Linked DNA regions of Homo sapiens. The protein of the gene in region 1 interacts with the protein of each later gene in a biochemical or structural test. Each region holds a gene or a part of one and is shown on either strand. Other genes may lie near its edges.

Evidence for each region.
Region 2: the proteins of MAGI2 (region 1) and CLDN1 interact in a test that uses a peptide from one of them, tested with the Homo sapiens proteins (one large-scale study listed by IntAct).
Region 3: the proteins of MAGI2 (region 1) and CD226 interact in a test that uses a peptide from one of them, tested with the Homo sapiens proteins (one large-scale study listed by IntAct).
Region 4: the proteins of MAGI2 (region 1) and TMEM178B interact in a test that uses a peptide from one of them, tested with the Homo sapiens proteins (one large-scale study listed by IntAct).
Region 5: the proteins of MAGI2 (region 1) and MAP7D2 interact in a test that uses a peptide from one of them, tested with the Homo sapiens proteins (one large-scale study listed by IntAct).
Region 6: the proteins of MAGI2 (region 1) and GOLT1A interact in a test that uses a peptide from one of them, tested with the Homo sapiens proteins (one large-scale study listed by IntAct).
Region 7: the proteins of MAGI2 (region 1) and SLCO2B1 interact in a test that uses a peptide from one of them, tested with the Homo sapiens proteins (one large-scale study listed by IntAct).

What each region holds. Positions count from the first base shown.
Region 1 is NC_000007.14:78,257,168-78,260,667, forward strand, and holds part of MAGI2 (membrane-associated guanylate kinase, WW and PDZ domain-containing protein 2), read right to left. Parts: intron 1-3,500. UniProt on the Homo sapiens protein: Seems to act as a scaffold molecule at synaptic junctions by assembling neurotransmitter receptors and cell adhesion proteins. Plays a role in nerve growth factor (NGF)-induced recruitment of RAPGEF2 to late endosomes and neurite outgrowth.
Region 2 is NC_000003.12:190,308,947-190,312,446, reverse strand, and holds part of CLDN1 (claudin-1), read left to right. Parts: intron 1-2,193; coding exon 2,194-2,278; intron 2,279-3,500.
Region 3 is NC_000018.10:69,864,374-69,867,873, reverse strand, and holds part of CD226 (CD226 antigen isoform a precursor), read left to right. Parts: exon of another isoform or gene 1-127; intron 128-462; coding exon 463-517; intron 518-3,434; coding exon 3,435-3,500.
Region 4 is NC_000007.14:141,072,721-141,076,863, reverse strand, and holds the start of TMEM178B (transmembrane protein 178B precursor), read right to left. Parts: upstream 2,801-4,143; 5' UTR 2,554-2,800; coding exon 2,172-2,553; intron 1-2,171.
Region 5 is NC_000023.11:20,012,408-20,015,907, reverse strand, and holds part of MAP7D2 (MAP7 domain-containing protein 2), read left to right. Parts: intron 1-580; coding exon 581-685; intron 686-2,282; coding exon 2,283-2,339; intron 2,340-2,775; coding exon 2,776-2,854; intron 2,855-3,372; coding exon 3,373-3,500. UniProt on the Homo sapiens protein: Microtubule-stabilizing protein that plays a role in the control of cell motility and neurite outgrowth via direct binding to the microtubule. Acts as a critical cofactor for kinesin transport.
Region 6 is NC_000001.11:204,197,663-204,200,825, reverse strand, and holds the end of GOLT1A (vesicle transport protein GOT1A), read left to right. Parts: intron 1-1,567; coding exon 1,568-1,631; intron 1,632-2,329; coding exon 2,330-2,368; 3' UTR 2,369-2,487; coding exon of another isoform or gene 2,488-2,520; 3' UTR 2,521-2,663; downstream 2,664-3,163. UniProt on the Homo sapiens protein: May be involved in fusion of ER-derived transport vesicles with the Golgi complex.
Region 7 is NC_000011.10:75,157,607-75,161,106, forward strand, and holds part of SLCO2B1 (solute carrier organic anion transporter family member 2B1), read left to right. Parts: intron 1-2,225; exon of another isoform or gene 2,226-2,323; intron 2,324-3,500. UniProt on the Homo sapiens protein: Mediates the Na(+)-independent transport of steroid sulfate conjugates and other specific organic anions.

The DNA.
Region 1 (3,500 bases):
GTTGACACCTTGGCTCTACTATTTAACAGATACATGATATTGACCAAGTTCCCTGCTTTGAGCCACAGTTCCTCATTTGTAAAGTTGTGAGAATGAAATGACATAATGTAGGAAAAGTACTTGGCATAGTGTATGACACACAGTGCTCAATAAATGTGGACTATTATTAATATGATTGTTGTTAAAATAGGATGGAGGAGATTTGGGTCCCTTGGTTTCAAACAGAAAGTTGCCACAGTTCATCCTCTGATCTTAGATAAACTAATATTTCTGTGGATCAGTTTCAATAAAGGCACTTGTCCTTTCTCCCCAGTGAACTATCACAGATTTTCAGAGGTCTACTGGTTAGAGGCTAACTTTATGATTAGAAATGCTCTGAATGCAAATTATCCATTATAAAATATATTCAGAGAAATATTTTTTCCTGCTTAAAATGCAGAAAATCATGGCTGTTTGAGATAAATGTTTTTTTAAAAATTTCAATTATGTATGAATAACAATTTTATTTTTGGAGAACTATTTTATCATGGATTGGTATTTTTATCTTCACAAACCATAATACTTGAAAATTGAGCTTGCAAATTGAGATTGTGCCTGACTATGCTGAGGAGTATATTAGGGATGAAGAGACATGTTTTCACAGATCTTGAAATAAGCAACTCAACAGACATCAGTTTATCAGAATAATTCTGGAATGGGAGGTACAAATGGCTAGGGATTTCATTCTGAGACATCCTTGCCCAGCAAGCTTGCAAACGTTAAAAATGAAAAACAGAGTTGAACTTTTAGAGTTGACAACTTTTCTGGTCTTTTGTAGGTGTATAACATAAAATGAATAAAACAATTAACAGCATTGTCTTAATTAACAGTCCCTCTTCCCAAATTGACAGAGAGGCCAAGCAGACATTTTCAGGGATCCAGGTTAGGTCTGCCTCTAGAAAATGTCACAACCTATGTGATTGGTCAGATGGAACTTCACTTTTCCATAATGTCTATCAGAGAGGGTACTGATGTGGTGGCTGGAACGTGGGTCCACGGCTCAGAACTGAATTGGAGTGGACATTCCCTCACTGTTATTATAATTCCTCTTCAGACTGTGGCAGCTGGGGATGCTTTGGGAATCGTTTTTAATTGATTCCATTCATCTCAGTGTCCCAGAGAAGTGTCTGATTCAGATAGACTATTTTTCTCTCCTGTTTCTTTTAGTTTTAATGTTATATTTTCTACATTTAAAAGGTTGAAAGAACAACAAATACTTGTATACTAACATCCAACTTAATGATTGGAACATTGCTCATATTAGTTGAATCCCCCTTGGCTAGCACCTCTCCCCCAACTTGCACTCCTTTACAGCCCTTTCCAAGGTAACCATTGCCCTATTTGAGGTTTGTTATTTACATATACCTTTATAATTTATATCATATCTAGGTGTCCGTAAAAACAATATCTCTAAATAGTATCTAATCTCTAAATAATAATAATCCCTGGAAAGTATTTTACATATTTTAAGCCTTTTGTAAATGGTATATATTTTAATATTCTGTAACTTTTCTTAAAATATGTTTGTGATATTTATCTATTTTGATACTTGTGCCTCTAGTTGATTAGTTTTCATTGTAATACAGTATTTAGTGATGGCTATATTACTACTTAATAACATTCATCCATTCTTTTGTTAATGGACACCGGAGTTATGACAAATCTGTGGCTATTGAAAATAACTCTGCTATGAACCCCATGCTGGCACAGACCATGTGCATCTTCAACTTTGTTAGATAGTGGCAAATGGCTGACAAAAGAGGTCACATTGATTTACACTCTGATCGGTAGTGTGTTGAAATTTTCATTGCTTTACATCTGACACAGTACTTCGTATTCTCAGACTTAATTTTTACCAATCTAATGGATGTGATCATAGTTTTGATTTGCATTTCCCAGACTGCCAGTGAAGGTGAGCATCTTTTCATGTTTATTGGCCTTTTGGATTTTCTCTTGGGTATGCCTCATTTCCTCAATTTCCTATTCAGTGAGTTTTTTTTAACTCATTGACTATTTTTTATGTCTACTTTCATTCTTGCTCCAACATTCTTCTTAGGTTCAGGAGGCTGCAAGGTATAGTAGAGATCACATGGGATATGAGGTCAAAAGACTTTGGTCTGAGTTCTAGTTTCATCACTTATTAGCTGTATAACTTTCCCAAACTGGCTTCAATCCTCTGTGACTCAGATTTTTTAGAAGTAATGATGAACAATAGTAATAGCAACTTATTGTTCCATGGGAAATAACGAATGAGATCATACAGGTGAAAGGGTTTCTAAGCTGTAAATTGTTATGCAAAAGATGATTGCTATTTCAGTAATTACTCTTTGTCCTTTGTTATATTCTTCTATAAAATCAGGACAGTTCTACCCAGATATTCCCACCACAGTTACAGTCAAGGATGACTTGAGTATGATTGTGGAAACAATGGGTTTCTGAATGGCCAAGTAAAAGTCAGAGAGGTAACAAATGCCACTTCCTCTAAGGCTCTCCCTAACTTTAATCACTGTTAACAGACTCCCCAGTCCCCAAGCACGCTCTCTCCTTCCCTCTGCTCTGCCAGAATTTCACGGGAAAGAACTAAGGGTTATGTTGAAAGCTCTCAAGTTTCCCTGCCAGGTCTAGAGAGTAGTAGTTTGAATTGTAGTGATTAATGTTACCTATTTTTGAGTTTTAATGTGATCTTGCTATTTAGAAACAGAGTGAGAACTATTTGTGTTTCTTAGTAAGACTGCCTTTTACAATTTATGGATATTTTCCACTAACAGCAATTTTTCAAGTCATCAGGCAAGGATAAAGAACACTGCAACAATATCTTTATGAAGATACGTAGAAGATTTCTGAATGTAAAAGATGAGTGGTCAGTTATCACAGGATAAAACTATATAACAACTTGATGGTACTCAACTGCCCACTTTAAAAAAATATATAGATGTCTAGATAATAAGTCATGCCCAAAACTCTTATAGACGGGGATGTCAGCAAACATTTGCTTGTTCAGATAGAACTTATTGGATAGAATATTAATAGACTGTGCTGTATGAATGTCATTTACATGTCGTGAAATAAAAATATAAGACACCTGGTATATGTCATCTGACGGTGCCATGCCAAGTCCTCAGACAGATTGGGTTTAAGAGCACAGAAAGGGACATCATCAGGAAGACTGGCTCTGGCTCTAACCTGTTGGCCTACTTAAGACGGAGAATTGGAAGAGTCACTTGATCTCCCCATCTCTCAATTTCTTCTTTTATAAAATGGGAATAAAAATATCTCTTACATTTCCTCTTTTGCAGAGCTACTGTGAAAATGAGATCATCCTTGTGAAAATACTTATAATTTTATCAAATTTTTTCTCCATAAAAATAAGAAGATACATTTCTTTTGAAAGCTAAGCATATATTTTCATTACTACATTGCTGGAAAATTTACTTTGTTTGCTAAATGGTCATTCACTTCAG
Region 2 (3,500 bases), on another chromosome or scaffold:
GAAAAATAAGGATAGCATTCCAGCTGGGCAGATCTAATTCGAGAATAAACAGGATGTGCCTGTAGATCAATGAAAAGAAAGGCCAACTGGAGTAGAGGTGGCCTGTTGGAATGGTCAGTTTAAAGCAGTTAGGAAAAAAAAAATACAGAAATACCTTTAAATTTTTTTGATAAAATAATATTATATTTTCCATTTAAAATAAATACGTGTTTTTTAGGCCAGGTGTGGTGGTTCACGCCTGTAATCCCAGCACTTTTGGAGGCTGAGGAGGGCGGATCACCTGAGGTCGTGAGTTCAAGACCAGCCTGGCCAACATGGTGAAACCCCATCTCTACTGAAAACACAAAAATTAGCTGGGTGTGGTGGTGCACGCCTGTAATCCCATATACTCCAGAGGCTGAGGCATGAGAATCACCTCAACTCGGGAGCCGAGATCGCACCACTGCACTCCAGCCTAAGCAACAGAAGACTGTCTAAAAAAAAAAGAAAAAAGAAAAGAAAAGAAATATCTGTTTTTTAATTCAAGTGTTGATTGATAAGTTACATTATGTGTCATTTGAGAAAATCAAAGTCAGAAAACATGGACAGCATTATTTCAAAGCTTTATAATAATGCCTATTTAAAAAATTATAGTGTATGTATACTTACGTGTGTATATGTACATACATATGCAATCTCTCTGTGTGTATATATATATCTTTATATCTATACACTGTGTTATATATGTTGATAATCTCCATATAAATTATACAGCTATAATAATAGACTACTATATGTTCTCTATATTAGGTATTAGATGCATATATTATATATGTAGTATATTATAGTATATTATTTTAAAAAAATAACAGATATAATTAATGATACAAATCTACTAATAGAAAAAAACTAGAATAGACTTTATTTTCTTATTTTCTTTTTGACAGAAGACTTGTAGGGGCTTTTGCTTCAGTATAATATGTCAGTTTAACCAGTAATTGAGGAAGAGTATCTGTGGCTTTGCTAAAGATGTGGTTAGTTTAAAATGACCAGTCTCTCAGTTTACCCAAATACAAATTGACTCCTCTCTGAAAAGGCATGGATAGTGTCTTATTCCCAATAATTTACTCTTATATCAAAGGCTGCGAATAGTAATCTTTGTGGCCATCGTGGCATGAAGTGTATGAAGTGCTTGGAAGACGATGAGGATGAAATGCATTGCATTCTTCCTTCGCTTGCCTTCTTGTAACTCCCACATGTGACTGCATCACTCCTATTCCAGTTTCAGGGACTTCTCTTAGGAGTAAGCATCACAAGTTCAAGACCATTCGCATGGTCTATTTGAGAAGCCAAAAGCAATAGTGTTTTCTGTCATGTCTAGAGGCAATTACATTGGACCATGTTTTTGGCTGGGGAGAGACAGTAGCATAGAAACATCTAATCTATCTATATTGATGAATACTTAGAATTACTACAAAAAAGTTATTTAACTTTTTTGATAAAAAAATGAAGTATTTTATACATCTTATAAATGATTAAGTGAATGATTTTGACTAAATGATTTCTCTGCTATCATTGAATATAAAATGCCATGGGAAATTGAGATTGGGTTGCATAAATTGATCTGATGTGGCACCCTCAACAAATCTCAGGCCAACCTATACCTATATCAGGTATTCCCTTGGCCAATGGGGCAGTAGTAATGCAGGTATTCTGGTCCATTCTGAGACATGTCCTGATCTCACTCTATCTAGCTGCTTGCATTCCTTTTGACTCTGCAGAAATGTAAATTTTGAGTTTGATCAAGAACATAGAAGAGTTTTCATCTTCCCCTTTTGCAAGTAATTCTACCTGTACTAATAATGACAATAGTTTTATCAAATGTAGTTTAGTATCCTAATGTATAACAGCATATTTAAAAGAGATTTTGTACAACATACACCTGCCTAATTGTTTCCAAAAAAGAATTATTTGTGCCAAGATATCATAAAAAAGTATAAATTTTGTCTAATGCCAACCTAGTATTTTTTTATATTTTAATAGATACTTGGAATAAATCATATCTGGACTTCTAATCTCCCTAATACCAAAATAAAAATGTCAACACTATTGATGAGATTTAATTCTTGCAAAATATGTTTTGGTTTAACAGGTTGTGTATTTAGGCTCAGTGTTCCATGGTGATTAACAGTCTTTTGTTTTGAATTTCTATAGGTCTGGCTATTTTAGTTGCCACAGCATGGTATGGCAATAGAATCGTTCAAGAATTCTATGACCCTATGACCCCAGTCAATGCCAGGTAACGCTATTCAGGCGTAAAATAGTTTGTTTTCTGAGAAAATGCCCTTTTTATATTCTACAAAGTCCTGCTAGTGCCATCATTTCCCAGATTTGCTTTCAAGAATTTTATGTCAAACCTACAAACAATTTAAATGATCTCTGACTTATGTCAAAATGAGTTTGATAATTGCTTTAACACCCTGTATTGATGACAAAATACCTTCCAAAGTAGAAAAGTTTCAAGCTCTGTGCTTTTCAACTGTATAACTGGGCTTTCTTTTGTTTGTTTTTTCAAATATTAATAAAGATGTTAATATATTTGAAATTTCCTTTTTGAAGTGTATTCTGATGTTTACAACACCTACCTAAGATTATTTGTAACTAATGCACAGTTTATGATTGATTGAGAAAAATTATACTACTATAGGGGTTAATGAATAATACTTCATTCCCAACAGTTCATTTTTACACGTAAAGCTATTATGTATGTTTTTAGTATGTTCAGATACCACCTTGAAATTTTTTGTTCTTTCACAACTGTAAAATTGGCTTTACAAAGGTCATCTTTCTTAATACTGCAGGTTGTGCAAGTTGAGCTGATTCTTAGCTCTCGTGTAACAACATTCTTTAATCAGAGACGAGGCTCTTCATCTCACTGTCTTCACATCTTTAATGCCTAATAACTACATTCAGTCAGGATGTTAAAATATAATTATTGTTTGTTGAGTGCTTAGATGAATGGATGAAAAACCTCAGTGTTTGGAGAGATAAGATGTGTTTCTTTTTATATAATCACCCACATATGGGAGAACACATACTGCAATGGTTGTGTTGGAGCCCATCCCATAAGATTTACAGTGTAAGAATAGAAACTGCTAGAGGTCAGTAGGCTAAAATTTCGCCAAGGTAATAACACCAGTAATGCACAGGAAAGCACTTTATAAATTGCCAGCCATTTTGCAATTGTTATTTACATTATTGCATGTGATCCTAAAAGCAGTCTATTGAGGCAGGTGGGATTATCCTGCTTTGAGAGTAGGAGAAACTGAGGCTGAGAGGTGAAGTTGCTATCCCAGAATTGCAGCAGTTGAGAGTCTGCATCAGGATTTAGACTTGGCCTTATAACTTATAGAACCAACCCTTCTCTACTCTTCCGTATTGTCCATAATCACTCACAGATACCCCACCCTAAGTGTCTGCTTTAATACATCTGCCTGGATCAGCTTAATCCAGAATGGTTC
Region 3 (3,500 bases), on another chromosome or scaffold:
GTGATTTAATAAAATAATCCATACGAGTGATTTAGAATAACACCCAAAAGATTTTATAAAGCTTCATTATATTGTCATCCAAGAAGTTACACTGCTGGCATTTAAAATAAATTTTAATTGTGGAAAATGTCTTAAATGTGAGGTTATTTGGAGAAAGCTATAAGTCATTTATGTAATAAGTCACTATAAATCATTCTTTAGTAAAATCACTGAGATTAATTACTAATGCACAGTGGTTAGATATCCATTTAGTTGCCCTCACCATCTGGGAGCAATTTGGAGAAGACAGGGAAAATGAAAAAAACTGTAGGGTAACAGAATTTTGGATAAATGTGCATAAAGCTACTTCAACATATTAGAAGGTGCATGTGGGCTAGGGGTACAGTGAGGTATAGAGTCTTCGAAATAATATTAGTACTGGAATATCATATCTTTATATCCTTTATTGAATATGCATTCCAGAAGGAGAAGGAGAGAGAGAAGAGATCTATTTACAGAGTCCTGGGATACACAGAAGGTAAGTTTATACGGAACTGTCATTTTTTTCTTTTGTAATTTACAGATGCAAAGTCAGTCTCTTTTGCAGTTAGCAATCTTATATTTTATTGTCCTTTCAGTAACCTGACCATGCAGTTGCCTGTAATTTAAATATCAGCTATTTGGAGAAAGTTATTTTCTGAACTATTCTATTTTTAATACCCTTTGAAACTAAGTTTTTTATATGAATATAAATAAAGGAGCAATTACCCTGGCGTAATAACAATCAACACTATGCCTTCCCTAAATCTTTGTTCCTTTTCTAGGGCTGCTGTGACAAATTACCAAAACGGGGTGGCTTAAAACAACAGAAATCTATTCTTCCATAATTCTGGAGGGTTGAAGTACAAGAAACAGTGTCAGAAGTACTGGTTTCTTCGTGGGATGAGAATCCATCCCATGCTTCTATCCAGCTTCTAGTGGAGCTGTCGATCCTTGGCTGGTAGACACATCGCTCCAATCTCTGCCCCTCTCATCACTGTTCTCAGCTGTGTGTGTGTGTCTGCCTTCCTTCTTTTCTTATGGAGACCCCAGTTATCTTGGACTTAAAGGCCCACCCCTCTCCAGCACAGCGTTGTTTGAGCTTAGCTAATTACAAGGATCCTATTTTCAAATGAGGTCACATTATGAGGTTCTGAGGAGGACATGAATTTGCAGGGGACAGTATCCAACCCAGGAGAGGACATAATATTTTTATGTCATAAGGTTATTGTGATGGTTAAATTGCATAAAAGAACCAGAAGCGTAGCAAGCACATAGAAGAACGTAATGATATTCATTATTATTATTATCTTTGGAGGTAAGTTATTAGTGTATACTTATACAACCAAAGAACTTTTTTATTTCCTTATGGGCTGCAGGAGTTTGATGAGCTGTAAAAGTTTCTTCCTTATTCTGCCTTGCTGCTGCCCCTTAGTGTTTAACTAAAAGACTAGAAACTTCCTTCTGGGTTTGCAGATAAGAGGGATATGTATTTTCATGCTCGTTATCCCCACTATACTTCAAATCTCTTCCTTTAATGCATAGCATCCTGTTTATGAAATTTCACAAAAAAAGTTGCTATGGATTGAACATTTATGTCTTCCCAACATTCATATGTTGAAATCCTAATGCCTAATGCGATGATATTAGGAGGTGGAGACTTTGGGATGTAATTAGATCATGAGGGTGGCGTCTTCGTGAATGGGATCAGTGCCTTTTTAAGGACAGAAGAGCTTGCTTCCTCTTTCTGCTCTTTGCAATGTGAGGATACTGAGAAGACAGTTGTCTGCAAACCAAGAAACAGGCCCGCAGGCCCTCACTGGACTCTTTTTTTTTTCTCAAGTTAGGAAAATATTTTCTTAATCTTGGACTTCCCAGCCTCCAGAACTGTGAGGAATAAGTGTTTGTGGTTTAAGCAACCCAGTCTACAGTATTTTGTTACAGCAGCCCAAACTAAGACAAAAAATTCCCCAATTCCTAGCCAAAAGTATATAAATTTCTTTTCATTTTAACTATTCGCAGTGGAATTCTACATGGCCACAAGCCAAGTACTAAAAAGGTTCTGACAATCCAACATGTGTTCATCAGATGCCTTCATAATTTATCAGTTTAACTTTTTATTTATTAAGTAGTTACTTTTGCAAAAAATATTTTTTTTGTTTGTTGGCAAAAAACATGGATTGCTTCTTGATGCCAACTGTAGAATCAAGAAACCTTGCTTTATTTCATCAGCCACTTCAGCAAGAAATAAATTGGTGCTCTGTCATACACAATTTTGGGATTCCCTTCTTCATCCTTAGCCTTTGTCTACTCATGCCAGTCTAGTCACATTTATTGTTGTGAATTTGGGGAATGAAAGGGAGCTTTGCAACGGTCTATATTAGGTATCCAACTTTTTCAGGTTTTTGTAGAATAATATTTTGAAGGATTATTAAAGAGTTAATAGGTTGGACTGTCAAAAAAAGACATTAGAACTACTTCATTCTCTTTTTTAAAAGATAACCTCTATAAGTAATCATGGCACTTGAATTTTCATTTTGCTTTCTTCTTAAAAACACTAACATCTGGCTGGTCATGGTGGCTCACGCTTGTAATCCCAACACTTTGGGAGGCTGAGGTGGGCGGATCGTCTGAGGTCAGGAGTTTGAGACCAGCCTGGCCAACATGGCGAAACTCCATCTCTACTAAAAATACAAAAATTAGCTGGGCGTGATGGTGCTTGCCTGTAATCCCAGCTACTCGTGAGGCTGAGGCAGAATTGCTTGAACCTGGGAGGTGGGGGTTGCAGTGAGCCTAGATTGCGCCACTGCACTCCAGCTTGGGCAACAGAGCGAGACTCTGACTCAAAAAAACCAACAACACTAAGGTCAATCTAAATTTTTAAATTACTCATCAAAAGACCTTTCTCTAGTTTCTTTTGTCTCTTAATTTGTCTTTCTTTTTTCACACCTGCATATTTTCTGTTACATACATACATATGTGGTCAAAGTGACTTGATTACGGTAGAGAAGATTAATGATTATACAATATCATCTTGATGTCAGTTTTGTTAACTTTTTATATGTTAAGTTGCTTATTTTTTAAAGTTCAGACACTGTGTTAGAATTTCCATATAAAAATGATAGTAATTGTTCTTATCAAAATAGCTTAACATTGGGAGAGGGAGTTCTACATTGAAACAGGTAATTCATAGCACAATACAGCAAGTATTAATCTAGACTAGATTTCTGTTGCATCTCAGTCAAGAATATGATTTCCAACAGAAGTTCAATACAATGAGAATGTTTTATCAAATTAATTATAATGGAAACTTGTCCCATATCATGCCTGCATTTATGAGAGGTATGTTTTGAATGTCTTCATTAGTTGTTGAAATGCAGTGAATTATTGACACTCTCTGCTGTTTGTCTTTCTAGGCACCCAATAACTATAGAAGTCCCATCTCTACCAGTCAACCTACCAATCAATCCATGGATGATACA
Region 4 (4,143 bases), about 63 Mb from region 1:
GGTGCTTGCCGCTGACAGTGATTGCTGTATTTTGGGCGATGGGGAACACCATTTCCATTAGTTCAAGTGAAATACAATGCCCTGCCAACTCTAGGTATCAGTGTATTCAATACCCCTGCTGTGCCATGTCCATTTTCTGTTGCTGCAATTAAAAATCAGTCGATACAAAATCAAAATGTTGTACATTCTTCCCCTATCCCTTTCCCTGTCTCTGTTTCCAGCTTCACCGGAAGAACATGTCACTATGGCAACCAACCCCTCCAGTGCACAGACCAAGTCAACCTTTCTAGTCAGACTGCCAAGCAGAGCAACAGGGAATCAAAGCTCTGAATGGAACCGCCAGAAACCATGAATTCCATCCCCCTTTCTCTAAGTGGGGTTAACCAACACAAGAAGGGATACCTCTCTTATTCTAGAAGGCATTCAAGGAAGGAAAAGTAAGAATATCCTTCAACAAATTCTCCCAGTGTTTGCTGTTCATTATTAACATGAATTCTCCCTCACATTTCAGCTAACTTCCTCTCATTTCAATTTTAAAGAAAGCAGAAAATCATGGATAAAATAACACTTTATAAATCTGAGAATCTCAAAACTGTTATAAGGTCACTCATTGTCAAAAACTATTCTAGGCCCTCTTGTTTTCCTGCCTTGGCAGCCAAACCCAAGTTGGTCTCTTCTGGACTCCCCTAATATTCTGTACATCTTTACAAAGTGGTAGTGCTCCAAATGGGTCACCTTGTTCCAATAAGAACCCAATTGTGAAGCAAATGGGATATTGGTTGTATTAACACACCAATAACAAAATCAGCTAAAATCCCTAGTCATTCTAAAGAAGCTATAAAACAAACAGATAGATTCTGTCTCTGAAGCCACCTCACCTAAATCTGACCTGGCCACCTAGACCAGACCCACTGCTTGTCATTCTTAAACACTTGACTTTTTTGCAAATTAACAATTTTTTCTGATCAATTGCACACTTGTATCCATCAAAGAACATCAGTTCTCATAAATATTATTTTAATACAGCAGCAAACCTCACAGCATTATAATGAGACACTAAGAACTGCTTTTATATCTTGGCCTTAAAAACTTTGCAAATAATAGTATCTTTGTCACCTTGACATCACCATTTAATAGTTAAAGAGAATGAAACACAAGGGGAAAAAAACCAGACTCATAAAATCTGCACATCTTCCTAGGATGTAGCTACCATAGAAGAGAACATATTCCTTTCTTCAGAGCAGTTTTAATACACATTCAAACAATATTCCAGTGGGTTGACAACAGGATGGTTCCCAAAGTATAAATCATACAAGGTTTACAAATTCCATCCGATAAGCAGAATTTTTTAAGTAATGTGATCATATTAAAGTATCAAATAAATTTTTATCATTAGCAAATGCAGCTTGTTTTGTGTTTTGACATACACTTTGGGAATTTTTATATACATTTTCTGAAAATCTTATTTTTTTTCTCTGACATGCCCACTTTGATGTTACTGAAAGAACTATTTTTTTTTTACTTATTAGACCTTGTTGATATTCGATGCACAGAAGTCACTACAGTCAACCACTGTTTCAGAAGGAGACATAAAGAATTGTGATATGATGCTGCTGGTCAGCTGGCTTGGAGCTGCTTACAGGACAGGGGCTGTGATTTATTGATGTTTATATGACCAGTGCCTACACCATATCTGGTATAGTATAGCGCTCAGCAAACGTTTCTGGTATGAATAAGGCCTTCTCTGTGAAATGTTTCCCCCAATTTTCCTTGATTAAATCAGTTCAACAAAAATTAGGAACCTGTCTACCCCTGACACATGACTCCTAAAGGGCTTCCTTTAAGAGCACAAACAACGTTCCAGATTCCCTTCTTCTCAGAGGCTGATGAAGCATTATCCTGGATAAGAACCCTGGACCATGAGGTTCCACTCGAATCCCGACAGAGACGCGCGAAAGGAGAGGCAGGGGAGAGAGTTAAGCCTGCACCAAGCTTCATTAACAGCTATTGGGAGGCAAGTCCTGGCCCCGAGGCTCAGCCAGGCCTGGATAACCGGACCGCCTGGAACCCAGAGACCTGATAGCCTGTGGCCTGGGAAGGAGACGCGAGGGGCTGCGGGGCCTAAAGGCGCCGGGCTCTCCGCAGCGCCACGCCTTGCGCCCGGCGCTTACCTTTCCGAATGAGGGCGGCGATCTCGGGGTCGAAGCCCTGCCGGTGGCACTTCCTCCAGAGGCCCATGTTGGTGGAGTTGTACTGCCGGCTGCACTCGTCCGCGGGGCTCATGGCGAACAGCTGCCGGCGATTCCGGGCCCGGAGGAGTTTGCCCTCCCAGCGGTCCAGGCGCGAGCGGCTCGCCCGGAGCGGCAAGTTGTTGTTATTGTTGTAAATGAAGCCGGGGTCGACCCGGCGGGTGTTGAAGGCCTTGCACCTGTCCCTGTGCTTCCTGGCGTCCGTCTCGTACCAGTGGTCCGAGCAGATGGCCACGGCCAGCATGCCGAGGGCGCAGAGCGCTAGCGAGAGGCCAGTGTAGAGCAGTAACCTTCCGGCAGCCATGCCTCCGCTTGGCGGCTACACCATGGGCATGATCCGCCGCAGCCTCGCCTTCCCTCGCCGCACCCGGAACAAAGCGGCGGGCGGCCGAGCTGGGGGAGGGGGCAGGAGAGGGACTCGCGCCGCGGCGCCCCCTCGGCCCCCGCCTACCGGAGCACGGCCCGGGGACTGCGGGGATGGGGGCGGGCGGCCTAAAAAGTTCTGATCCGGAGAGGCTCCCGCGGGCTCCTGGGCATCCTCTGAGGCAGGTGCAGCCTCCGGCGGCGGCGAACCCAGCGCGGCCGCCTCCCGCCCCCTCCCCGCCCCGCAGGAAGCGACTGCCCCGAAGCAGCCGCCTCGGCTCCCAGCCCGGCTTCGGGCGCCGCTGCCCTCGGGCCGGAAACTAAATGCCAAGTGTCCTCGGCTGCGGTGGGGCTTCTTTGTGCAGGATGGTGACGGGACAGAACTCGCCTGTCTCTCTGAGGGGGACGGGGGGTGCTGTCAGGAGGCGCCACTGGACCACCGGGTGAAGTAGAACGCCCCGGATGCGGCCGGCGGGCGAAAGAAACCTCCAGGTGCTGGGGCCGGCTTCTCGGAGTCCCTCCTGGGTCTCTGGCTCAGAGCCTCTCCCCCTCCCCGTCTGCAAGCAAAGACCTGGGGCGCGCACCCAGAAATGTTCTTCCTCTTTGGGTCGGGTCCTCTTAAAATCTCCGTTCTCTGGTCACCAGCAGGTCGGTTGCTCCTTCTGACCCGCGTGCTGCGCTCAGAGGCGCACTCCCCGCGGACGCACGCTCTCGGCCGACCTTTCCCCGCGAGCTCCCCGGTGCCCTGCCTCTGGCATCGCCATTCAGGCGGCCCCTCGGGCCGACAGCGTGTTCACCCGGGCGGCGTTACCGGACGAGACCCGGCCTGGGATCTGCGGAGACTGGGCGGCTGCTGGCGGACGCGAGGGGCGGGCTGCGCGGCGGAGGGTGCACCAGGCAGCGCTCACTGCGCGCGGCGCTAGGGGCTCGGCCCACCGCGCCTTCAACACCATGGACAGGTCACGCCGCCACGGCGCGCTGCCGGCCCAGCCGCCAGCCCCCGAGCGTCACGCAGCTCTTCCCAGCGCCGTCTTCTGCCTGGAGTGTCCACCCGACCGCCTCCGGACCCGGCTCTCCCGCGACGCCTCCGCCTCACTTCATCTGGCACCCGGGAGCCCCGGGAGCCTGCCGCCCAGGTGCAAAGAAAATGCCGCAGGCACCGAAGAAAACCCCGGTCCCGGCCCCTCCAAACAATCCGCCCCTTTCTCCAGGCACCTGAGCCCTTGGCACTCTGGCACCCCGTCTGCTCTGCCCAGCTGGGCTCAGTCGCTCTCAGATTGCACCATTTTCTTCGCAGCCCACCCGGGCGCCGAGATGCCGGCTCACTCGACAGCGTGCAGAGAATCCCGTCCTGGCCTCGGCGTCCCACGATCCGGCTCCCGGCGCGCGGTGGTCGCCGAGATGAATGGGGAGAGGGTGGGGGAGGGAGGCTGGGTCACTCGGCTTCCCCTCGTCGCCTCCTCCTCTAGCCGCGGCGGCTCCGAGGCCTCGCAGGCTCGGCTGGTGCCCGGGAGGCGCGAGAGCCCAGGCT
Region 5 (3,500 bases), on another chromosome or scaffold:
GGGTTTCCCCAAAGGCAAACCCTGGGCTAAGAATTTGAGTGCCAGCAGTTTTTTTTGCAAGCGAATCCCAGGAAGCTGGTAGAGGAATAGGAGAAAAGCCAATGTAAGTGCATTGATGCATGTGTTACTGTGGGTGACTGGAACACAGTCCCATTGGGAACCTCTGACAGACTGTGGATCATGCTTTAGAATTGTCCAGCTGAGGGATGAGGAAACTGAACTACTTATCTACCACATCCTGCCCTTCACGGTAGTAGAAGGTCACTCCCTGGGGAATTAACTCTCTGATCTGGCCACATGCACACTTCATGGCCCAAGCCTGCCCACAGACACAGAAAAGCCTTGGCCATGTGTGAGAACTGTCTGCAGGTGATTTGCATGGTGAGCCAGGGGTATATGAATGAGGTCCAACCATGTTTGCTGTGTCATGCAGTGGTTTGTATAAATCCACATTGAATATTGGAGCAGCATCCACTTTAGGGCAGATGATGAGATGAAGGAACATGTGCAAAGCCAGGGAATTACCACACTGTTTTCTTAGCTTATTAAAGCTTTGCCTTGATTTACCTGTTTCTGTTAGAAAGAAGCAGCAGAAACAAAGGCCCGGGAGGTAGCTGAACAGATGCGTCTCGAGAGAGAACAGATTATGCTGCAGATTGAGCAGGAGAGACTGGAGAGAAAGAAGGTAAGGGCTGAGGGTCAGGAAGACCTAGGGTAAGTGAACAGGAAGTAAATCCAGTTCTCTTCTGCAGTGATTGGATAGAATGATCCTAGGATTGTCAGTTAGGTCAAGTTCATTGATACCACTGTTCAAATCTTTTATGTCTTTATTAGTTTTTTGCCATCTCGTTCCATCAGTGATTGAGAAAGATTGTTAAAAACTCCATCTGTAGCGAGGCATGGTGGCTCACACCTGTAATCCCAGCATTTAGGGAGGCAGAGGCGGGAGGATCACTTGAGCCCAGAAGTTCCAGACCAGCTTGAGTAATACAGTGAAACCCTGTCTCTACTAAAAATACAAAAAATAGCTGGGTGTGATGGCATGTGTCTGTAGTCCCAGCTACGTAGGAGGTTGAGGTGGGAAGATGACCTGAACTCGGGAAGTTAAGCCTGCAGTGAGCCGAGATCATGCCACTGCAGTCCAGCCTGGGGAACAGGAGTGAGACCCTGTCCCAAATAATAGAAAAAAGAATAACTCCATCTGTGATTATGGATTTGTCCATTTTTCCTTTCAGTTCTGTCAGGTTTTGTTTTATATATATTTATCGTGATATGCCTTTGTCTCTAGTGATATTTCTTGTCTTAAAGTCTACTTTGACAGCCCCCTGCCTTTTATTTTTTTGAGACAGTCTCACTCTATTGCCCATGCTGGAGTGCAGTGGTGTGATCTCGGCTCACCACAACCTCCACCTCCCAGGTTCAAGCGATTCTCCTGCCTCAGCCTCCCAACTAGCTGGGATTACAGGCGCACACCACCACACCTGGCTAATTTTTGTATTTTTAGTAGAGATGGGATTTCACCATGTTGGCCAGGCTGGTCTCGAACTCCTGGACTCAAGGGATCCTCCTGCCTCGGCCTTCCAAAGTGCTGGGATTATAGACGTGAGCCACTGTGCTTGGCCTGACAGCCCTTTTATGATTAGTGTCTGTATGTCAAATCTTTTTCACCCTTCTACTTAAAACTTCTTCTGTGTGTTTTTATAAGTAAAGAGCATATAGCCAGGAATTGTTATTTTAATTCTGTTTGACAGTCTTTGTCTTTTAATTGGAGTGTTTAGTCCATTTACACTAACTATACTTATGGGTAAAATTGGGTTTAAGCAGACTGATTATAAAGGAGTATTCTCATGGTGTCCTAGGCCCAACCTGGGCTTTGTATTGCTGTAGGCCTGGGATCCAGGAGACCAGCCTGTGGCCTTCTCTCCTGAGATGCACCTCAGCCTCAGCCTCACTTTCTGTAGGGTGGTGCTCTTTAATGGCAGGTGGTAATTTGTTGATTTATACAGAGCCTAAGGAGAAGAAGGAGAAATATGGGATATAAATCGAATATTGATTCTAGATACGTACTAGTTAACTTCTCAAGCATTTGACCTTGTCCATGGGGCCGGAGGTGTACATCTCCAAAACTAGTGGAAAACCTTTCTATACTTGTTATCCTCTTCTGACTTTTGCCTTTTACAAGTTTTCTGAGAAATGTGACATTGCATGTAAACCAAGCTACTTTTATGTTTTTGGTCTTATTGTCCTCTTACTTGATTTTGTTTTTTGTTTTTTGTTTTTAGAGAATAGATGAAATCATGAAGAGAACAAGGAAAAGTGATGTGTCTCCACAAGTGAAGGTAGGAATTCAAATGACCATTTTAATAGTTTATGTACTAAGTAGAAAAGAACAGCAGAATACACTCAGTGAAATTGTAGGTCTTGGCGACGATTAGCCAGAAAAAAATGCAGTTTTCCTGCTTTGTTCCTGGCTAGGTTAAGGAGGGTTAGGTACCTGAAAAGAAAGAGGGGCTTCAGAGGTGGGATGGGTAAGAGATTTCCTTAGAGTCATGGGAGGTGGGATGAAGAGAGAGGCATAGTAGTCCATGAATAAAAAAGAGAATCCTGACATAAAAATACGTAAGAATAAGGGAAACACAGCTGAAGATTTAAAGAATTACCACAGAACAGGCAGATGGTCCAGGCTCAAAATATCATCGGATGCTTTTAAAAAGTACTTTTTTTCTGTGTGATGTCAGCCTTCCCTCATTTCATTCACCTTCCATTTGTTTTCAGAAAGAAGACCCCAAAGTGGGGGTCCAGCCTGCTGTGTGTGTGGAAAAGAAGACAAAACTGGTTGTCCCCAACAAAATGGGTGAGTGTGACATCTGGTTCTTGGGTTCTTCCTTTTAGTAGCAAAAGCTCGTAAGACTTGGTGTAGGGTAAACAGACCCATGGATCCCAAGAGGGTGACTGCTGGCAGGGGCCTGTGCAGTTTCCCTTCCCTGGGAATGTGTCTCCAGCACAGGGACTGTCAGCTCCACTTGGGAACCCACTGGGTTCCTTGGTTACTCCCATAATCCCAGCATAGGAGGCACTCTGGCTGCTGGCTCACAGTGCTTTCCAGGGAGCTTAACTGCTGGTCAGGTTTTATTACTGTTAGGACCTGACTCTGCTCTTCTCCAGAGGTTCTGCACAGACACTGATAATGTGATTTGTCTTCTCTTCTCCTGTGTGAAGGTGATTATATGGGTTTATTTGTGGCTCTTTCCACAAAAGATGCTGCAGTATCAGTGAAGCAGAGCATTAAATTAATTGCCTTGATCTATATTTCTCTGTTACTTTATTTAGACATTTTATGATTAACACAAGGGACTTTGTGTTCTCGATCAGAAATCAATGGATTGAACACCTGCCAGGAAGTTAATGGTGTGGATCACGCTGCCCCAGAAACTTATCCCCAAGACATTTTCTCTAATGGGCTTAAGCCAGCTGGGGGACTCATTCATCTGGATGCCCTT
Region 6 (3,163 bases), on another chromosome or scaffold:
GGCTTCTGCAATCATGGAAAGGTGTGGGGCTCAGGAATCCCCAGGTTCTCACAGGAGCCCCCGTTTGCTGAAGGCAGCCCTGAAACCCCCTGATTAGCCTGAATGGCCTAGGCCTCAGAGACTTTGGGAAGTGTGGCTTTAAAGTTTCTCATGCATACCTGCCATCTATTTATTCCATATTCAAATATGTCATTTTATGGCTGGGTGCAGTGGCTCACACCTATAATCCCAGCACTTTGGGAGGCCGAGGCAGGCGGATCACTTGAGGTCAGGAGTTCGAGAACAGACTAGCCAACATAGTGAAACCCTGTTTCTACTAAAAATACAAAAAAAAATTAGCCAGGCTTGGTGGCAAGTGCCTGTAATCCCAGCTACTCGGGAGGCTGAGACACAAGAATTGCTTAAACGCAGGGGGCGAAGGTTGCAGTGAGACAAGATCACACCACTGCCTCCAGCCTGGGTGACAGACCGAGACTCTCTCTCTCAAAAAAAAAAAAACAAAAACATATATATATATATATATATACACATATATGTCATTTTCAAACAGTCGCTTATTCAAATTGTCAAATATATAATAAGCACCTACTGCATGCCAAATACAGGGCCAGGTGTGAGGATGTGGCACTGAATGAGGAGAAAGTTCCTAAGGAATTTACAATTTAGTAGGGAAGACCCATAAATAAATTCTGACAACAGTTAGCATTTATGGAGGGCTTAGAAAGTGGAGTGGGACAGCAGCAAATTCAATAGTTCAAACTGAAAGTCAGCCTTGACAAAGACACTGTGCAGTAACACAGGAGGCAAACAAATTACAGCTATCAGGGACCTCAGAGTGCAGTGAAACCTTGGAAAATTGAGGCCCACGGTAAGGAAGTGGCTCAGCCAGAATCCATATTTCAAATCTCCCTTCCCATCCGCCACACACCGGGATCCCTTCCCATGCCAGCCTTGGCACCTCCAAGCCCTGTGAGGGGTCACGCATGTGTCTGCAGTCAGGCCTTGGCAGGGTATCTTTGATGAGAGCAGGGTTGCCAAAGGCAGGGGTGGCTGTGTGCCTGGGGGAGCCAGGGCACCAGGGAGTGTAACGGTGAGCATGGCTTCCAACAGCCCCCGACGCCCAGGGCCCAGGACACCCGGGGCAGGTGGATCTCAGGAAGAGAAGAAAGCTTTAGGCCAGAAGAGTCATAATCATGAGAGTAACAATAATAAAAATAAGCACTTCCTGAGCATTTCTTTGTACGTGGCCTTATGATGTAGATACTGTTATTGTTAGCCACATTTTATGGCTGGAAATTGAGATTCAGAGAAGTTAAGGAATTTGCCCAAGTGTATATGGTGCCAGTAAGTGGTAGAGCCAAGAAGTGAACCCAAGGAGTGTGACCCTGGGGCCTTCATTCTTAATCATGTCACTCGACTGTCTCTCGGAACACAGGAGTGCAGAATCAAGCCTGTCCCTGGTGTGTGGAAGCCAGAGCTTGAACCTTTCAGTGGACCTCAGCCTCGTGCCCTCTATCCTCTCTTCCTGGGCCATCACTGACTCCTCCCTTCTCCCCTCTGCTCCTAGGGGCTTTTTCCCTGTCGCCTTCGGCTTCCTGGGCAATGTCTGCAACATCCCCTTCCTGGGTGCGGTAAGCAGATGATGCCTGCAGCCCTGCGGGCGTACCCTGGGGAGTGAGGGGGAGCACACGGAGGGGAGCTGGTAAAACTGCTGCCCCAGGGGCAGTGGCCTCTCCCCTGTCTCCCCTCAGACCCCCTAGCCCAGGTTTGGTGCTTTAGGCTCCTCTTCCCCCCGCACCTTCTCCATTTGACAAGAGCCCATGAGGAGAGGGGATCCAGACGCAGTTGTAGCTGAGTGTGGCTGTAGAGGCAGGTAGCTATGAATAGCTTCCTGTTTACAGCCAAAGAAATGAAGACGCAGAGACTCTAGGTGACTCAGCCAGGACATGCCTGAGATTTCTGGGGATCTGGCTAAGTGCGGGCCCCAGGCATGGAGAGAATGTATGACAGCTGATGACAGCAGGAAAAGCTGTCCTGCAGGTGGCAGATTTTGTCCTCTCCTGGGGATAGGCACAGCCACTGGTATCCAGCCCCTGCCCCTCCTTATCCCTTTCTCTGAAGCACCTGGCAGAATGTGAGCTCTCTGAGGAGCCCAGGGAGACCCTACAGCCAGCACCCCACCACAACCGCCAGCTGGACACAGCCCCTACAGCCCCTCTCGTATCTGCGCCTGGCACAGCTCCTGGCTCTCAAGGCCAGCTCTGTAATAACTAGATATTGCATCTGCTCTCTACCCTTTGTGTGGAGTAATGATTCTTGGCTCCCACAGCTGTTCCGGAGACTTCAAGGCACTAGCTCGATGGTCTGAAAAACAGAGATGAGCTCCTTGAACTTGGATCATTGGTTGAGGGGGCTAGAGGGAGAATGGGAACCACCCCCTCAGTCCCCTGCACTGACTCACTCCCCGACATATCCGGACCTCCCCAAGTCCAGAAGGAAGGAATGGAGCTGAGCAACTGACGTCAAATCCCCAAGTCGACTCAAGAGGCTGCCAGGAAGCAGAGATGCAGACCCCAAGGAGACTGGGCTGGGGCTGGTATCACACCCTCACTCTATATTTATGGGAGGAAAAGTGAAGATTAAATTCCCAAGTTGTGCGTGTGTCTAAGGCTCAGAGTTGGCGTCTTTGGCCGGGCGCGGTGGCTCACACCTATAATCCCAGCACTTTGGGAGGCTGAGGTGGGCAGATCACCTGAGGTCAGAACTTCGAGACCAGCCTGGCCAACATGGTGAAACCCCGTCTCTACTAAAAATACAAAAATTAGCGGGGCGTGGTGGCAGGTGCCTGTAGTTCCAGCTACTCAAAAGGCTGAGGCAGGAGGATCGCTTGAACCCAGGAGGCGGAGGTTGCAGTGAGCTGAGATCGCACCACTGGATTCCAGCCTGGGTGACAAAGCCAGACTCCGTCTCAAAAAAAAAAAAGTTAGCGTCTTCAGCCCATTAAGACCACCTCCTGCTTCAGGACAGGCCAACGTACACATCATCCCCACAGCGAAGTTTTGGTCTATGAGGGTCAGTGCTGTCCTCATAGGCTATCATTTCTGTCCTGGTGTTTAACAGCCCTAATGGGTGTGATAATAATATGTTTGCAATCCCCTGTTAA
Region 7 (3,500 bases), on another chromosome or scaffold:
GCTTGAATATTTATCAGGAAAAGAGAGCAAGGGCCACCTATATGCCAGGCCAGCTGCCCCAAAGGCCTTACCTCTTTGAGGTCGTATAGAGGAGAAGAGATTTCTTGTCCTCACTCTTTGCTAGGCTGGTGGCTGAGGTCCCTATAACAAAAGACAGCTTAACAGGAGAAAAGCATACAAATTTATTTGGCTTTTAAAAATTTAATTTACTTATTATTATTTTTACATAGAGATGGGGTATCACCATGTCACCCAGGCTACTCTGGAACTACTGGGCTTGGTAATTCTCCCACCTCGGCCTCCCAAAGTGTTGGAATTACAGGCGTGAGCCACTGCGCCTGGCCCAAATTTATTTAATATAAGTTTTACATGACACAGGGGCCTTCAGAAATGAAGACCCAAAGAAATGGGAAAACGTGTGTATTCTTAAACTTTTTAGTTTTTATTATATTGAATTAAATTAAATTATTTATTTATTTATTTTTTGAGACAGGGTCTCACGCTGTCGCCCAGGCTGGAGTGCAGTGGCATGATCTCGGCTCACTGCAACCTCTGACTCCCAGGCTCAAGTGATCCTCTTGCCTCGGCCTCCCGAGTAGCTGGGATTACAGGCATGCACCACCACACCTGGCTAATTTTTTGCATTTGTAGTACAGATGAGGTTTCACCATGTTGCCCAGGCTGGTTTATTATTTTTTAATCATCTAGCCTAAAATGTCAAAAACTTGTGACTTTTTATGCCAAGTTTGATGAAGAAGTATATAGTTGTGGAAGTATTGCACAAAGAGTGTGTGAGCTAATGGTGATACACTTAGGGGAACCTAGCAAGGCCTGTTTGTTCAGATTCTTCTCTGTGTCCTTGCATCTTCAAAGTTAAGGCTGTTTTTTTTTTCTCCAGGTACAAAGACAGCAACTCTCAAATGAGAATCTTATGACCTATTTCAGGGTGAAAGGTGGGAGAAGGTCAGAGTGGGGTGACTATCCTAGGTTTTATGACCTGCTTCTACTGTTTTCTCAAATGTGGCCAAGGTGCCATATTTGGAGAATAGTGTGTCCTGAATTCCATCAGTAAATACTGTTATATTCACCTTACAAATGGGGAAACTGAGGCTCAGAAAGCTCAGGGATGTGCCCAGGCTCACACAGTGGGCTTGTAGCACATCTGGGATTCCAACCCAGGTCTGAGGCCTTAAAGCCTATTCTCAGCCTCACATTTCCCTGAGATCTGTCCTTTGCTGCTGGGAGGCAGCCAAAGGAGGCAGAATCCTGGGCCTTTCCCACAGAGAACAGGTAAAGGAAGGCGGTCCTTGCAGTCAGGCTGGTCTCTGAAACCTTGCTCCTCATCACCCAGACTCAGGTGGTGTGGAGAAGGCTGACTCTACCCATGAAGGGCAGCCCCTTGAAGGGTGAGTCTCTGACTGACCAGATACCTGGGAAACGAAGTTTGTGGCTGACAGACTTTCAGGAACTTGTCTGACTGTCTTATGAGGAGCTGCAGGCAGGTGGCTGACTGACGGCCTGAACGGACAGCTCTCCTGAAAGACAGTAGCCCGCCGGCTGGCTGGCTTACCAGCAGGTGGACACGATGTGCCTGCATGAGTGATCAGCCAAGTGACCGACTGACAGTCAGACACACAGACCCATTGCGGGCCAGCTCGGGCTGTGGGTCCCTAGCCCCTGGAGCCACCTGGCCTACCTGGGACCCCAAAACTTAGCTGCCCACCTGGGAGAGAGAGGGACTGGGTTTTTTAAACTAGGGCCTGGCTCTCTGCCCCAGGTCCCTTCATTCCCGCAGGCAACCGCCTGCCCAGCCCAGGTTCAGTCCCATGGCCGTCCCATCCTCCTGTCAGGGGTGGCCCCTGACAAAGGCCCCACAGCACAGGGCAGGGTCTCAGTGCCCTTCCACAGGAGGACACGCAGTCCTGGACTGGACCATCCTTCCAAGGGGAGTTCCGCCCTGAGTCAGGGAGGCGAAGGTTTGCTGTCAGCGCGTCAGCAGAGACCCCAGCCCACAGGAAAGGCTCGGAGGGGGTGGGCAGCCTGCCTGACAAGCCCCATTCAGTGACCAGCTGACCCCCAATACATGACTCGTGCTCCTCTCAGAACCCGGAGGAATGTGGCCAGTGCTTCCCTCCCCTGCCCAGAGGCACAGGCTGTGGACTTTGCCCTCCACAAACAGCCATATCTCTAAAGGATAAAGTACTCCCAGGAAGGCTTTGAGCCTTGGCAGAAAAGGCTGGGATTGAAGCTTCAGGGAGAGCCAGAGGTGAGGCTGGAGTGGGAGATCACCTGAGGCAGGTGAGCAGGCTCCATGAGTGGGCAGGTGAGAGGCCAGGGGGCTGGAACTGGGGCTAGACAGGCTGGGGCACAGCAAGGATGCCACCAGTATACCCAGGAAGCTAAGTGGAGGGTCCAGGGTCTGGCCTGGAGGCGGGGGCCTCACATTCTGAGCTGGCCCACAGGCTTCCACCCCTCTCCCCCATCCATTCCTTGGGTTTCCTTCAGAGCTGGGGCTCCAGGTCAAGGACTTCTGCTCCCAGCCTCAGCTCCCGCTCTCTCACCTGGTTGGCTTGGCCCCTTGGTGGACTGGCACTGCTACCTATGAAGTGACTTGGCTAGGTTTGGGTGGGCCAAGACAGAGAAAAGCACTGTGCTTCTTCCCCCTGTCAAACTTGTACAAGGAGCATTGAGTGATGTTGAGTTTAACACTTACCTGGGCTTGAGTCCTGGGACCAATGCTAACCAGCAAAGCTAGTTCCTCTGAGCCTGGGTGTCCTTATCAGAAGCATAGAGATAATAAGACACCAAAGGGACGGAGCTGTGGAGAGGGTTCATGGGCCAGTGCACAGAAAGCCTGTGGCATGGAGCCCAGACTACAGCAGGAAACCCACTGCGGCTGGTGAGAGGAGCTGAGGCTCAGAAATGGTCCCCTCCACCTCCTCTGGGAGCCTTTGCTTTGAACTGCCTTATTTCCTCCTTGCCTTTAAAGTGACTCCCACTGAGTGTCCCATGACACTCCTCTTCCCTAGGCCAATTTCCCGTCTCCTCGTCAGGTGTCAGTTTTGTTTCAACAGTTCCTTGCTTCCTCTGAGTGTTTATGCCCCGCAGAGGGACTCCTCCCTAGCCACACGCACTTCCATTTCCTCAGCCAAATTCCTCAACCTGTTTGTATAGACATTTCTCCAAAGCAAGATATACAAATGGCAGTAGGCACATGAAAAGATGCTCAATATCATTAGTCATTAGAAAAATGCAAACCAAAACCACACTGAGATACCACCTCTACCCTATGAGGATGGCTATAATTGAAAAGGCAGACAATGAAAGTATTAGCAAAGATGTAGAGAAATTGGGACATTGCTGGAGGGAGTGTAAAATGGTGTTGCCACTGTGGAAAATGGTTTGGCAGTTCCTCACATGGTTAAACATAGCATTATTGTATATGAACATATGACCCAGCAATTCCGCTCCTAGGTGTACACCCAAGAGAATTGAAAATG